2 separate regions of the Homo sapiens genome follow, and region 2 is linked to region 1. Evidence: fine-mapped QTL for protein levels in blood plasma. A gene starts in region 1. The other region holds a variant in brackets. All regions are shown on one strand. Distances are between the middles of the regions. Region 1 holds the start of RNASE10 (ribonuclease A family member 10 (inactive)). Region 2 has its middle 14 kb from the start of RNASE10.

What was found. A credible set is the group of variants that fine-mapping cannot tell apart. PIP is the chance, under the fine-mapping model, that this variant and not a neighbour inherited with it causes the effect. The UK Biobank Pharma Proteomics Project read protein levels with antibody pairs (Olink). The fine-mapping took linkage between variants from a reference panel, not from the people measured, so its PIPs are less certain.
Region 2: its variant is the best candidate, but not a certain one, in a credible set for the plasma level of the RNASE10 protein (UK Biobank, PIP 0.76).

The regions. Positions count from the first base shown.
Region 1 is chr14:20,501,415-20,509,748 of GRCh38, reverse strand. It overlaps RNASE10 (ribonuclease A family member 10 (inactive)), which reads right to left and starts at 4,212. Exons shown (of 2, transcript NM_001386206.3): 1 at 3,730-4,212.
Region 2 is chr14:20,515,463-20,523,796 of GRCh38, reverse strand. No RefSeq gene overlaps it. Among named protein-coding and RNA genes, the nearest start is that of RNASE10, 14 kb to the right of the region's middle. The variant T/A (reference allele first, on the strand shown) is at 3,412.

The DNA.
Region 1 (8,334 bases):
TTCTTGTAGAAAGCCTTATTGTCAATATAGGACTAGATTTACCACAGAAGACCATCTCTTTATTTTTAACCCAAATTTGCTTTTGCTTATTCAAATATCTATTACTCTTCTTGTTACCCACCTTCCCCACAAAAGATAAAAAGGAATAGAAAAAGTACCACAGTCCATTCTTACTCCTAAGCTGAGGCTGGAGGGAAGATGTCCAACTTTACATCTCAGGCCCCTGCTAAAGCTACATCTTGTTAAGCCAGATTCCTTCTACTATTAAAGATCTCTTAACATCTGAGTAGTCTTGCTGATTAGGTTTATACTCTCAGGGAAGAAATGGAATAAGAATGAAACCAAAGAAAATCAAACAATTGACCTGCTGGGGGTTCCCCTACTCATAAAGATTCTAAGGAGGCCAGGCTTGGTGGCTTCTGCCTATAATCCCAGCACTTTGGGAGGCCAAGGCAGGTGGATCACCTGAGGTAGGAGTTCAAGATCAGCCTGGCCAACATGGTGAAACCCCATCTCTACTAAAAATACAAAAATTAGCCGGCATGGTGCCACGCACCAGTAGTCCCAGCCACTGGGGAAGCTGAGACACGAGAATTGCTTGAACCCGTGAGAAGGCCAAGATGGTGCCACTGCACTACAGCCTGTGTGACGGAGTGAGATTCTGTCTCAAAAAAAGAAGATCCTAAGGAGAGCTGAGCATGCATCTTTGTCTTGCTAGGCCAGTCTCATCCCCTTAACAAAGAGACACATTCCCTGCCAGAAAAAAAAAAAATTGCTATGAAGAACATTATTGAGGCAATTGATAAAAGTATGATCTCTGTAGTAGATAAGAGTATTATGGCAGTCCCCCTTATCCACAGGGAATATGTTCCAAGACCCCAGTGAATGTCTAAGGCCCTATATGTACTGTTCTCTTCCTATACATACATATCTACATAAGTTTAATTTATAAATTAGTAATATATATTAACAACAACTAATAAAATAGAATAATTATAACAATATACTGTTCAAAATTTGCAGATAAAAGATTCTTTCTTACTGTAGATTTTACCAATTGCAGCATGTTTTTCCCCCCTTTCCTTATTAAGTTGAGACACTTTCACCTTTTCACTCAAACGGAGCACTTTACGGGTTCTTTTTGACGTGTCTGAATTGCCAGCATCATCATTCTTGCACTTTGCGGCTATTACTAGGTAAAATAAGGGTTATGTGAACACAGGCGCTGAGATACTGTGACGGTGCATCTGATATTGGCCACTAAGTAGCTAATGGGTGGGTGGTGTCTACAACATGGACACGCTGGACAAAGGGATGGTTCACATCCCAGGCAGGATGGAGTGAGACGGTGAGAGATTTCATCACATTACTCAGAACAGCATGCAACATTAAATTATGAATTGTTTATTTCTGGAATTTGCCATTTAATAGTTTCAGACCGTCGTTGACCATGGGTAACTGAAACTTTGGGTAGGGAGAATCACTGTATATATGTATTTGATATACTGAATGTAAAACTGTACCCTGATTGTTTAAGAAAATATCCTTCTTCTTAGGAGATGCACACTGAAATATTAAGCAGGAAAAGAGCACAACATATGCAATATACTCTCAAATGCTTCGGAATATAGATATATGGATATGTATACATGTGTGTGTTTACAGAGAGAGAGAGAAAATGATAAAAAATAAATAGGGGGCCTGGGCGCAGTGGCTCATGCCTGCAATTCCAGTGCTTTGGGAGACCGAGGCAGGTGGATCACTTGAGTCCCGGAGTTTGAGACCAGCCTGGGCAACATGGTGAAACCCCATCTCTACAAAAAATATGAAAAAATTAGCCTGGCTTGGTGGCGTGTGTCTTCAGTTCCAGCTACCAGGCAGGCTGAGGTGGGAGGATGGTTGGAGCCCAGGAAGTTGAGGCTGCAGTGAGCCATGATCCAACTGCTACACCCCAGCCTGGGCAACCGGAGTGAGAATCTATCTCTAAATAAATAAATAAATAAATAAATAAATAAATAAATAAGGGAAGTTTAAAAAAATAATGTACCTGGATAAAGAATATTCATGAGTTCCATGAATTATTATCACATTTGTTTGTAAAGTTGAAAATTTTATTTATTTATTTATTTATTTTTTTAATTGATCATTCTTGGGTGTTTCTCGCAGAGGGGGATTTGGCAGGGTCATAGGACAATAGTGGAGGGAAGGTCAGCAGATAAACAAGTGAACAAAGGTCTCTGGTTTTCCTAGGCAGAGGACCCTGCAGCCTTCCGCAGTGTTTGTGTCCCTGGGTACTTAAGATTAGGGAGTGGTGATGACTCTTAACGAGCATGCTGCCTTCAAGCATCTGTTTAACAAAGCACATCTTGCACCGCCCTTAATCCATTTAACCCTGAGTGGACACAGCACATGTTTCAGAGAGCACAGGGTTGGGGATAAGGTCACAGATCAACAGGATCCCAAGGCAGAAGAATTTTTCTTAGTACAGAACAAAATGAAAAGTCTCCCATGTCTACTTCTATCCACACAGACCCGGCAACCATCCGATTTCTCAATTTTTTCCCCACCCTTCCCGCCTTTCTATTCCACAAAACCGCCATTGTCATCATGGCCCATCCCCAATGAGCCGCTGGGCACACCTCCCAGACGGGGTCCTGGCCGGGCAGAGGGGCTCCTCACTTCCCAGTAGGGGCGGCCGGGCAGAGGCGCCCCTCACCTCCCGGACAGGGCGGCTGGCCGGGCGGGGGGCTGACCCCCACCACCTCCCTCCCGGACGGGGCGGCTGGCCGGGCGGGGGGCTGACCCCCCCTCCCCCCTCCCGGACGGGGCGGCTGGCCAGGCAGAGGGGCTCCTCACTTCCCAGTAGGGGCGGCCGGGCAGAGGCGCCCCTCACCTCCCGGACGGGGCGGCTGGCCAGGCGGGGGGCTGATCCCCCCACCTCCCTCCCGGACGGGGCGGCTGGCCGGGCGGGGGGCTGACCCCCCCCACCTCCCTCCCGGACGGGGCGGCTGGCCGGGCGGGGGGCTGACCCCCCCACCTCCCTCCCGGACGGGGCGGCTGGCCGGGCGGGGGGCTGACCCCCCACCTCCCTCCTGGACTGGGCGGCTGGCCAGGCGGGGGGCTGATCCCCCCACCTCCCTCCCGGACTGGGCGGCTGGCCGGGCAGAGGGGCTCCTCACTTCCCAGTAGGGGCGGCCGGGCAGAGGCGCCCCTCACCTCCTGGATAGGGCGGCTGGCCGGGCGGGGGGCTGACCCCCACCACCTCCCTCCCGGACGGGGCGGCTGGCCGGGCAGGGGGCTGACCCCCCCTCCCCCCTCCCGGACGGGACGGCTGGCCGGGCAGAGGGGCTCCTCACTTCCCAGTAGGGGCGGCCGGGCAGAGGCGCCCCTCACCTCCCGGACTGGGCGGCTGGCCGGGCGGGGGGCTGACCCCCCCCACCTCCCTCCCGGACGGGGCGGCTGGCCGGGCAGATGGGCTCCTCACTTCCCAGTAGGGGCGGCCGGGCAGAGGAGCCCCTCACCTCCCGGACGGGGCGGCTGGCCGGGCGGGGGGCTGACCCCCCCCCACCTCCCTCCCGGACGGGGTGGCTGCCGGGCGGAGACGCTCCTCACTTCCCAGACGGGGTGGCTGCCGGACGGAGGGGCTCCTCACTTCTCAGACGGGGCGGTTGCCAGGCAGAGGGTTTCCTCACTTCTCAGACGGGGCGGCCGGGCAGAGACGCTCCTCACCTCCCAGACAGGGTTGCGGCCCAGCAGAGGCGCTCCTCACATCCCAGACAGGGCGGCGGGGCAGAGGTGCTCCCCACATCTCAGACGATGGGCGGCCGGGCAGAGACGCTCCTCACTTCCTAGATGGGATGGCGGCGGGGAAGAGGCGCTCCTCGCTTCCTAGATGGGATGGCGGCCGGGCAGAGACGCTCCTCACTTTCCAGACTGGGCAGCCAGGCAGAGAGGCTCCTCGTATCCCAGACGATGGGCGGCCAGGCAGAGACGCTCCTCACTTCCCAGACGGGGTGGCGGCCAGGCAGAGGCTGCAATCTCGGCACTTTGGGAGGCCAAGGCAGGCGGCTGGGAGATGGAGGTTGTAGCGAGCTGAGATCACGCCACTGCACTCCAGCCTGGGCACCATTGAGCACTGAGTGAACCAGACTCCGTCTGCAATCCCGGCACCTTGGGAGGCCAAGGCTGGCGGATCACTCGCGGTTAGGAGCTGGAGACCAGCCCGGCCAACACAGTGAAACCCCGTCTCCACCAAAAAAGTACGAAAACCAGTCAGGCGTGGTGGCGCGCGCCTGCAATCGCAGGCCCTCGGCAGGCTGAGGCAGGAGAATCAGGCAGGGAGGTTGCAGTGAGCCGAGATGGCAGCAGTACCGTCCAGCTTTGGCTCGGCATCAGAGGGAGACCGTGGAAGGAGACCGTGGAGGGAGAGGGAGAGGGAGAGGGAGAGGGAGAGGGAGAGGGAGAGGGAGAGGGAGAGGGAGAGGGAGCAAACTCACTTTTTCATCCTTATGATTTGTCTATATATTCTTTTGGGGTTTCTAAACACAGACACTGTTTCATGGGTGAATCAATCAGAGTTTTACTTTTTCTTGTCTGGCACTGGAGCTCTTTCTTTGTCCTACCCTACAGCATTGGCTGAGACCTCCAGCACCATAACTTGTAGAACCGCAGATCAAGGCACTTTCAGGATTCACATTCAGTGAGGTTTGCCAGAGTTACTTCTGCTCCTCTAGCAATTGATCAGATAACGCTTTTTCATTATTCTTGTTGTATTCGCTGGATACACGCTGCTTGAGCTTTGGAGCCTCGCAGTGGTGTGTACGTGTGGCGGGGGCTGGCCTGTGAGCTCCTCTCCGCTGCTGTCCTTGCTGGGTTAGGGACTGAGGCTACGTTGGCCTCAGGAGCTGGTGAGTGCTCCCTTGTCTTTCTGGAAGAGTTTTGTGGACGTGCATTACTTTCCCTGTAAATGGTTGGTAGAATGCTGTGGTGATGCTGTCTGCGCCTGGAGTTCTTTGTGAGAGAAGGTTGTAATGACAGATTCCTTTTTTTTTTTTTTTTTTTGAGACGGAGTCTCTCTCTGTCGCCCAGGCTGGAGTGCGGTGGCGCGATCTCGGCTCACTGCAAGCTCCGCCTCCCAGGTTCACGCCATTCTCCTGCCTCAGCCTCCCAAGTAGCTGGGACTACAGGCGCCCGCCACCGCGCCCGGCTAATTTTTTGTATTTTTTAGTAGAGACGGGGTTTCACCGTGTTAGCCAGAATGGTCTCGATCTCCCGACCTCGTGACCCGCCCGCCTCGGCCTCCCAAAGTGCTCGAAAATTTATTAAAAAATTATTTATTTTAAAAAAGAGAGAGGACTTCCATGTTGTTCCTTGAGGCACCCAACACCTCTGTGACTTACGTACATGCATAAGCAGCTGCAGAGATTCTTGTGTCCTCTCGTTCCCCAAGTTCTTCCCTCCCAGGGTTTCCTTCTTCGTGAGCAGTGCCCTGGCTGCTAGTCTGAAGAAAAATGGTTATCTTCTGGTGGTCCACGTGCTCTTAAACACACACTTACTTCCTAAACCCACTCCCCGTTTCACTTCCTCCGCCTAGCACTGAACAAACACACTCAGCCAATTCTTTCTGTTCCCACAAACACTTTGAAGTGAGGCTATCTGGGCACTGAGACAGATCCAGACATCCAAGACGGGAAATCTCTCCAGCCTGGGAAACTGCAGACAGTTTTGTTTCATGGATCAATTGTTCTGCTCCTGAGTTACACCCGCTATCCTGTGGTTTATGCAGCCTGACCTTGTGCATGAATCTCAAGTTTAGTCTTTTCTTATATCTGCCACATGTACTTCCTTTAATCCTCTCCTATAATTTCTGCAGTGTCAAGATCTTTGGCCTTTATTTGGCCATCTCTCCAACATGATTATTACTTTACAAGTGTATTATGACAAGATTTAGAGTATTTGAGACAATCATGAGTTTTCACATATCTTTACCTATAACTTTATCCAGTTTTCCACTCTCTACTCCCTCTTTCCATTCCCCTAGCCAATAACCACATTCCCATAAGAATATCTGGATTTTGCAAATCTGATCATTTAGCCCTAGATAGGAGACTATCCAAAGCAGCATTATCATTATCAGTCCCTATACTCTGGGTGAATAAAACCAGGAGGGTTACAATGTTGATCCTAAGGTTCACTTCTTTAGCTGAAATTGACATTCTGAGATAATATTTTTAAAACCACTCTGGAGACTGTTAAGGCACTATAAAAATCATCTGTAGACATAAACACGATCTTTTAAGAAGATGTTTTCCTAAACTGTGGTATAAAAAAATAAAATAAAAATAAAAGAAGATGTTTTCCTTAGTCCTTCAGGCAGAATTTTTCAAATGGTGGTCTAGGAGCCACTTCTGTGATTTACAAAGTCTACTGGGCTGACTTTTGCAGTGCTGGTGTTTATAATTTGCAGTAAGAGCAATGACACCGACTACCAGTATTGAGCACTTCCTTTTGCAAGGCACTGACTGCATTTCACCCTCACATTTGCTTGCGCTATCCCTCTTTGGTGTCTATTCTGCCCATTTATTCTGGTGAGGTCTATTTGCAATGTGAAGAGAAAATCAAGAATTATCTGCTGAGCCCAGCAGCAGTCTAAGGTCAGCAGGGGTAATGTATTCAACAACCATGCATCACCTGCTTCTTTATAACTAAAGAGTTTTGTTACTACTAGAGATCATTTGAAATTAACCTTTAATTAAATACAAAGAAAGAACCTAAGTCTGTGTAAGTATAACCTTTAGACTGGACAGGTTTTTAATTTTCATTTTTATTTCTTTTTCTAGGCTACAGTTTTCTCGTCTTCTAAATTTGAATCGTTCTTGGACATAAAGTGGTTTATAATACTAAAAAAATTTTTTAAATAAAAAATGAATAAATTTGGATAATAGTAGCACTTACTTTACAGGGCTGTTGTAAATATTATATAAGACACTGCATGTAAAAGGCTAAATGTATTAGTTGTTGTTGTTATTGCTCTTACATAGCAATTACCAACACATGCTCATTACCCACCCAATCAATATCATTTTCCTGTTTAGAAATAGCACATACTAAGGACCGTAGCTACCAACACTGCTCACTGTATCTTCTAGAAGAGTCAACCAGTATCCTGGAATCTCTCAGAAGGAATTATGAGAAGGCTGATATAAGATGACCCTCATTTCACCAACAAAGAAGTGGCTCAAGTAAGTTAATGTCCCAAATGCTACAGATAACTAATAGCAGTTCTGATACTAAAACCCTTGGCTTGTAGTTAAGAAAAATTTATGATAAATAAATAGATGGTGGATAAATGATAGGTAGATAGATAGACAGACAGATAGATAGGTGTAAAGAGATAGGGGTAGAAAAGATTGATGTTAAAACTGAACCCTACAATTCTCCCAGCTTATTTCCTAGAAAGAGTTTTCAGGCTGTGGCACAGAGAGGGAGACCCAGGCAGAGTCCGCCAGTCTTCCTGAGCTGAGGAGATAAAACTGGGGGTCCAAGGAAGCCAAGGCAACTGGAGTTCACAGAGCACAGTACCAGAGAGGACAGAATTGCAGACAGAACTTCAGAGATCTGGAGTGACAAGATGTCACTGCACATCCATCAGAATGGCTAAAAGAATAAATAGCGCAAATACCAACTGCCGGCAAGGAGGCAGAGAAACTGGGTACACGCATACATTAATGGTGAAAATATAAATGTTATGGCCACTCTGTAAAACAGTTTGTCAGATTCCTTTTTTTACTGATACATAATAGTTGTACATATTTGTGGGGTTTTGATACATTCATACAATGTTCGATAATCAAGTCAGAGTAATTGGGATATCCATTACCTCAAGCATTTATCATGTCTTTGTGTTGAGAACATTCCAAATCTTCTAATCATTTTGAAATATACAATAAATTATTGATAACTATGGTCATCCTGCTGTGCTATTGAACACTGTAACTTATTCCTTCTGTCTAACTGTGTATGCTTACCATACAACCCAGCAATTGCACTCCTTGGCATTTAACCCAGAGAAATGAAAACATATGTTCACATAAAAACCTGTACAGAAATAAAATAGCAGTTTTCTTCATAATATTCAAAACCTGGAAACCATCCAAATGTTCTTCAATGGGTGATGCATTAAGCAAACCATGGTACATGTACCATGGAATATGACTCAGCAGTAAAAAGGAATGAACTATTGATACACACAATAAATTAGATACATCTCAAGGGCATTATGCTAAATGAAAAAAATGTATCATCAAGCAGCCATGTACTGTATGATTCCATTTA
Region 2 (8,334 bases), 14 kb before region 1:
CATATGCAAAACAATAATGCCTATGCGTATTTGCATATAGATTTGAAATCTTCATGCAAAGTTCAGTAGGATCAGATTTTCTCAAAAATAAGAGAAATAAAAAAGGTTTGTAAGCAAAAATTAAAAAAACGAAAGAAAGAAAAAAGAGAAAATACATGCAAATACATGTGAGTGTGAGTGTGATTGGCTATTTGCCATATTCCCACCTATGTCCACTGAGACAGCCTTAGAGCTCTCTCACCCCAACAGCAATGAGCACCTACCTAGCACCCAGATCCAGGTTTCAAAATACTGTTCGTCACTAAACACAACCAGGTCATCTTAGAAAAATGACTGGTTCCAGGGGAAGGAAAATATAAAATGAGCTTGGACCATCTTGTAGTTTCTAAAAGCAAGGAACTGCCTAAATAATGATGGGGAGGCTGGGCATGGTGGCTCATGCCTGTAATCTCAGAACTTTGGGAGGCCGAGGCAGGAGGACCCCTTGAGCCCAGGAGTTCAGAGACCGGCCTGTGCAACATAGTGAGACACTATCTCTACAAAAAATGAAAAAGAAAGAAAGAAGAAAGAAAGAGAAAGAAAGAAAGGAAGGAAGGAAGAAAGAAAGAAAGAAAGAAAGAAAGAAAGAAAGAAAGAAAGAAAGAAAGAAAGAAAGAAAGAAAGAAAAGAACAAACATTAGCTGGGCATGGTCATGCACACCTGTAGTCTCAGCTACTCAGGAGGTTGAGGTAGGAGCATTGCTTGAGCCCAGGAGTTTGAAAGCAGTGAGCCATGATCACACCCCTGCACTCCAGCTTGGACAACAGAGCAAAGAAAAGAAGAAGAAGAGAGAAAGAAGAAGAAAAAGAGGAGGAAGAGGAAGAAGAAGAGGAAGAAGAAGAAGAAGAAGAAGAGGAGGAGGAGGAGGAGGAGAAAGAATAGGGATACATCAAAAACACACAGAAGCCCTATTAAAATAGCTTCCACTGGCTAATCTGGGACAACTTATAACTCATTGAATAAAACAAGAAACCATGAATCCATACTGATATAAATAAATGAATGCATTTAAAATATAAGGATTTAAATACCTACACAGTTTTCTTCTTCTTCTTCTTCTTCTTCTTATTCTTCTTCTTCTTCTTCTTCTTCTCCTTCTCCTTCTCTTTCCTCTTCCCCTTCCCCTTCCACTTCCCCTTCTCCTCCCTCCTCCCTCCTCCCTCCTCCCTCCTCCTCCTTCTCCTTCTTCTTTTTGAGATGGAGTCTTGCTCTGTCAACCAGCTTGGAATGCAGTGAGGCAATCTCACCTTACAGCAACCTCAGCCTCCCAAGTTCAAGTGATTCTCCTGCCTTAGCATCTTGAGTAACTGCAACTACAGGCAACTGCCATCACACCCAGCTAATATTTATAATTTTAGTAGAGATGAGGTTTTGCCATGTTGGCCAGGCTGGTCTCGAACTCCTGATCTCAGGTGATCTTCACCCTCCACCAACCCCCCAGCCTCCCAAAGTGCTGGGATTACAGGCCTGAGCCAACCGGACCCAGCTGAAATACTTACATAGTTTAAAAATGCATCCACTACAAAATACTTAGTAGTTACAAAGAAAAAAATAATAACTTCAGTAGAGAAGGCTGGCAGATTTCATTTTAATCAGGTGAACAAAGTAAACATCATCAATAATGGTTTAAATTGAAATTGAATTGAAACTTAGAGGATGCAGTGGGAAGAACATGCACCATTTTTGTGACATCTCTGCCAAAGATGGAGAATCTAAATCTAATCAGGACAAACCCACATGGAGAAACATTCTACAAAATAACTGGACTGGAATCTTCAAAAGAGTCAAAGTCTAAGAAAGCCTGCGGAATTGTATTACAACAAATGAGAATAAAGAGACATGACTACTAAATGAAACACATGATTCTGATTGGATCTTTTTGCTCTAAAGAACATTATTGAGACAAATGGTAAAATTTGAGTAGAGTCTGAGTTAGATGGTAGCATAATGTGAATGTTAACGTTAATGTCCTGATTTTGATAGCTGTATATGAGAATATCCTTGTTACAAGAAAGGCACACCAAAGTATTCAGGAATGGAGGCGCATTCATTAACTTACTCTCAAATGGTTCTGGAAAAAAAAAAAGAGTTATTTGTGTTGTACTTGCAATTTTTCTGAGATTGATGTTACTTCAAACATTTAAAATTACAGTTCAAAATTATAAGGCAACCCTGTAAATAATATTTGATTCCAAGTTTTTTAACATATACATGTTCGTATGTATATTTGCACATAAAAATCTAAAAGTATATGCACCTAAATATTAAGGGTGATTAATCTTAAATAGTGTGACTACATTTGACCATGATTTTCTCCTTTTTCGTCTGTATTTTCCTAATTTTTTTTACAATGAATGGTATTGCTATTTTTATTCATTAAATCACTAGGAAAAATATTAGAAAATACAAATAAATTTGAAAATAATGAATCAATTAAAATTGCCCTAAATCTCATCACTGAAAGTTAACCACTGATGACATTTTGATATCTATCCTTCCAGGATTTTTTACACGCATATATATATATATGCATGTATAAGAAAGTTAAATATATATTAGAAAACATATATATATAAAATGTTATTTACAAAGGTAGGCATGTGTTTTCACAAAATGAAATAATAATAAACACACCATAAATTTTTTTCACTGAATTCATCTACATTCTTTCACGTCAATAAATTTAGGCCTTTACTATCCCTTTAGGGACTGAATACTATTTCATTGTTAAACTACTATTTATTTAAATAATCCCTGATGTTGGACACTTAGAATTTTTTTACTTTTACCATTATAAATCATGCTATGATGAACATTTTTATTCATACAACTTTATGCATTTGCCAAATTGATTCCTTAGGATAAATTATGAAAAGTAAAATCCTGGGGTCAAAGATTTAAAAAAAAATATTAGGCACTTTTGCTGCATATTATCAAATTGCCCTCTAGAAAGTGTGTGTATCGGCGTATATTCTTACCTGCCTGGTACCCTAACCCATGACAATGTTAAATAGTATCTTTTTTCTATGTGAGGAACTTAAAATAATCAGAATAAACAGTAATCTTTAATATTTCTGGAGATAACTGGATAAGAAAATACATTTCATAAGCTTATAAATGTACTAAAAATGATAAACATTCTATGTTTTTTAACTAAGTTGGTAGGTCAATTATTAGCCTGGGAGTGGGGAAGGGGAGAGGAAGTAAAATAATTCTTTAGTTACTAGATAAAGAAAAAATGATATGAGTGGAGAGATGGAAAAAACACTATAATGAGCCATTCCAGACCAGAAAGTCTTGCATTTCATAACTATATTATCTATTGCTGTGAAACAAATTACTGTAAAACTTAGCAGTTAAAGCAACAAATA[T/A]TTACCATGTTGCAGTTTCTAAAGGTCAAGAATTTAGAAGAAGGTTAACTGATAGGTTCTGGTTCAGGGTCTCTCATAAGCTTGCAGTAAAAATGTCAGCTAGGGCTGCAGTCATCTGAAGGTTTGACTGGGGTTGGAGGAGCTGCTTGCAAGATGGCTCACCCACACGGCCTTTGGGAGGAGGTCTTAATTCCTTCCTGGTGTTGGCAGGAGACCTCAATTCCCACATGGGTCTCTCCATTGTGCTGCTTGAGTGTTCATATGATATGGCACCTAGCTTACCCCCAGAGCGAGTGATGTGAGCTCAAGAGCAAGGAGGAAGCCAAATCCTTTTTTGGACCTATTTCAGAAGAGGCATGCCATCACTTTGATCACATTCTGTTCGCTGGAAGTGAATCCATTTCTAGCAGATTCTCTCACTGAATTCAGTCACACTCAAGGAGAGAGAGATTAAGCTCACCTTTTGGAGGGAAGAGCATTAGTGACTGTGTGGACACATTTTAAGGCTACCATAATAGCTAAAACACATGAAGCTCTTATCAAGAGCTTCTATAGTCTCAGATATTGATGACAGATGGCCAACTAACCACAGATCAAGAAAGGTCAGGTGCAGTGGCTCACCCTTATAATCCCAGCACTTTGGGAGGCCAAGGCAACAGGATTACTTGAGGCCAGGAGTTTAAGGCCAGTCTAGGCAATATAGAAAGCCCCCCATCTCTAAAAATATTTTTGTTTTCTTGAGACTGAGTTTTGCTATTGTCACCTAGGCTGGAATGCAGTGGTGCGATCTCGGCTCACTGCAGCCTCCGCCTCCGGGGTTCAAGCAATTCTCCTGCCTTAGCCTCCCAAGTAGCTGGGACTACAGGCATGTGCCACCACGCCTGGTTAATTTTCTTGTATTTTTTGTAGAGACGGGGTTTCACCATGTTGGCCAGGCTGGTCTTGAACTCCTGACCTCAGGTGATCCTCCTGCCTTGGCCTTCCAAAGTGCTGGGATTAAAGGCATGAGCCACCATGCCCAGCCTAAAACATTTTTTACATTTAAATTTAGAAAAATAAAGTTGGAAACCTAGTGTAATGGAAACATCACTGATTCAGGGGCCAGAATATTGGACCAGGGAAGATCAAGTCATGGCCGGGCACAGTGACACTGTAATCCCAGCATTTTGGGAGGCTGAGGCAGGCAGATCACCTGAGGTCAGGAGTTCGAGGACAGTTTGGCCAACATGGTGAAACCCTGTCTCAATTGAAAATGCAAAAATTAGCCTGACGTGGTGGGAGGTGCCTGTAATCCCAGCTACTCAGGAGGCTGAGGCATGAGAATCACTTGAACCTGGGAGGCAGAGGTTGCAATGAGCCGAGATCGAGCCACTGCACTCCAGCCTGGGCAACAAAGCGAGACTATCTCAAAAAAAAAAAAAAAAAAAAAAGGCATATTAGTCAATGTATGAGAATAGGCTATGCAAAAAATAAAAATAAAAATAAGTGAGTTCAACTAGATATATACACATTGAACACCTACAATGCACAAGGCATTGTGTTAGTTCTACTGGGTATAACCAGAGAGGCTACTTACCTAAGATAAGCTAGTAAATGTTAGAACTACAATTTTAACGCAGTTCTGGAACTTTCAATCGAAGTTACTTACCTAAGATAAGCTAGTAAATGTTAGAAGTACAATTTCAATGAAAGTTCTGGAATTTTCAATTGAAGTTCCAGATTCCATGTGCTTAACCATTATGCTTCACTGACATTCTAGAGTCTACCCTGCCCACCTGCCTGAAGTGATCTCCAGCTTGGGCCCCTGACCTTCAGCTCTTGGAGGGCTTCAAGAAAAATGAATTCCCTATTCCTTCCTTAGAATATGTTCTTGAGGGGCTGGGCACGGTGGCTCACGCCTGTAATCCCAGCACTTTGGGAGGCCGAGGCGGGCGGATCGCAAGGTCAGGAGATCGAGACCATCCTGGCTAACACAGTGAAACCCCGTCTCTACTAAAAGTACAAAAAATTAGCCGCGCATGGTGGCGGGCGCCTGTAGTCCCAGCTACTCAGGAGGCTGAGGCAGGAGAATGGTGTGCACCCGGGAGGCGGAGCTTGCAGTGAGCCGAGATCGCGCCACTGCACTCCAGCCTGGGCAACAGAGCAAGACTCCATCTCAAAAAAAAAAAAAAAAAAAAAAAGAACATGTTCTTGAGTTAGTGATTTATTGAGGGAGTGCTCTTAGGAGAAACCTGTATGTAAGAAGCTAAAAAAAGAAGTGATTTTAGCTAAAAGCTAGTCTCAAACCTGACCCCATGGGGAGCTCTAAAACATGACTGATGCCATAAGATTGAGGCAAGAGGTCTAAGTTCTTACACATCCATATCAGCCAGTCATTGGCTATGGGCTACCCCTGGGGAAGGACATAACCTCTTAGACATTGTCAACAAGGCGGCCCCCATAGGCTGGAGGCTATGCTCTGGAGAAGAGTGCACCTGTGAATTCTTGACAGAGAATACTCAGCAGCTGTGGGATGGCTGCACCTCCCTGGTAAGGGAGGTCTATATGTATCAACTGTTCTCAACCTTACAAATATATTATTTTAACCCCAGTCTTCTAATACAGTTGCTTGCTGTATGTTTGGTCCTTAGCAAGACCAGCTTTCCAGAGCAGTGCCCAGGGCTGGCTCTAATCACATCACCTTCCTTCTTCCTATCACAATTATCCCCTCTGGATCTCATTTGTGGATATGTTGCAAAGCCTGTTTCTTTTGTTTTGTTTTGTTTTGTTTTAATGACTGTATACCCAGTAAGTAGGTAGCACAGTGCCAAACGCATGCAAAAGCATTCATAGAATAAGGCCTATTTTGCTTTTTTCTTTTCTTGTTGTCACCTTATAAATGTGCCGAAGATCCCATTTTTTGAAGTTAATAATTTTATATACTTGTGTATAGGGATATGCAATAAGTTTATAAGGATATAATTCCAAACACTAACCTCATGCTAGTGCTGGAGAGCTGACATTTTCAAACACTGGGGCATCCCAGTACCTCCTGAAATCCTATTTCCATAGGTAATGGACTATTATGTCTCAACATGAGACTCACATTTCCCTCATTGCCTCTGTTGCTTGGCCTTAATATTACCATTTTCCTCTTCCCCTTACCTTTCCCCTAAATCCAAACTTAACTGGGTTTCTGAATCATAATTCTTATAAAGAATCAGCCCAGCTGCTCCTGGAAGTGACGTCTCTGGGATGTGAATCACTTTCTGAAAACAAACTGGAGCCCATTGCAAAAATGTGAAGAGGAGAGAAAGGCAGGTCTCTGCGTAGGATACAGGAAATGGAGGCAGGAACATCAACAAATTCCACGCTAAATCAAAGCATTGCTGAAAATGACAGAAACTCTGTGCCCTGGAGTTCCTTTTGACCCCACCAGCAATGAATCTCTGCTGGATAACGTAACTTCATTTCATGGGAAAGAGAGGCTTGAAAAGAACCAACTGAGGCTACCCTGCTTGGTAGACTGAGCACTTGAGGAAGGCGAGGAGATGACTTCTTGTCGAGAGCCTAATAAGGACATAACACATGAGACATTACCTTGGATACAGCCACAACCAGAGCTGCCTCTACTGTGTGTGGCCCTGGCTAAATTTTTTGGGGGGTAAGGGTGAGGAAGAGGGCCCTATCTATATAAACAGTTTCATGTTTAAATATATTACAAAATTTATGAGCCCAAGTGAAGTATCATGATTTGTCAATGAAGTTTTAGAATAATGAGAAAAGAAAGAGATACTATATATTTCTTTATTGTCCCATCAATGTATATGGAGATTCTTCGGACTGTCCAGATATCATCTCTTCCTGTTAGATCTAGGAATCATTTCTTCACACTCCTTACTGTCAAATGCACCATTCTTGAATATTTCATGTCTCCAACCACAAGAAAAAAGGGTATCACACTGCTACAGCTCTTCGAAACCTATTTAAATTGAAACAATTTGTATCTTCTTGCCTCTGTAGTTTCCTAATGCCATTTAATGTCAGTTATAGTGTTACTCATGACAGGGAATTATCCAGTTTATGGCCTAAATACCAACTTCCAATGACTCTCTCAAAGGTTACTTTATTACTTTATGTTGTTGGTGATGATCACAAATGCAAGTCTTATCCAGAATATGCCAGAAAATGAGAATGATAATTAATTTTCAGGCCATGTAGAATTTGCCATTTGGAGTTTTGTAGTATAAACATAAAACATATCTTCCAATCATATTTTCTCTTGAACTCTTTAAGCCGTAATTACTGCATTCCTAGAACGTGACCTCTTTTACAACTAACCACATTCCTACCTTCCACACATTGCTACTAGCAAGAGACCCGTGGGCAGAGTGAAAAAAGCATCCTGTTCATGCAAGGAGTGATTATCCTTCATCTTGCACAGATTAAGACCAACCCAAGAAAGCATGTTATCACCCACCAGTTGGAGGCAAGAGAGAACATTGACAGGAAATGCCCCATTGGGGCTAGGAGCGGTGGCTCATGCCTGTAATCTCTGCTCACTGTAACCTCCCTCTCCCAGGTCCAAGCAAATCTCCTGCCTCAGCCTCCCAAGTAGCTGGGATTACATGTGCCTGCCACCATGCCCAGCTTTTTTTTTTTTTTTTTTTTTTTTTGTATTTTTAGTAGAGATAGGGTTTCACCATGTTAGCCAGCCTGGTCTCGAACTTCTGACCTCAGGTGATCCACCTGCCTCGGCCTCCCAAAGTGTTGGGATTACAGGCATAAGCCACCACGCCTGACCAAGTCCCAGAACTCTTTTGCAGCACCTAGTTGACCCCACACATGGCAGTGGGGAGACAGTGCTCCAAAGGGGAGAAATGGGACCCGGGCCCACACCAGTCCTAGTCTAAGCTCAGAGCACCCTACCCACATGGCACTGCT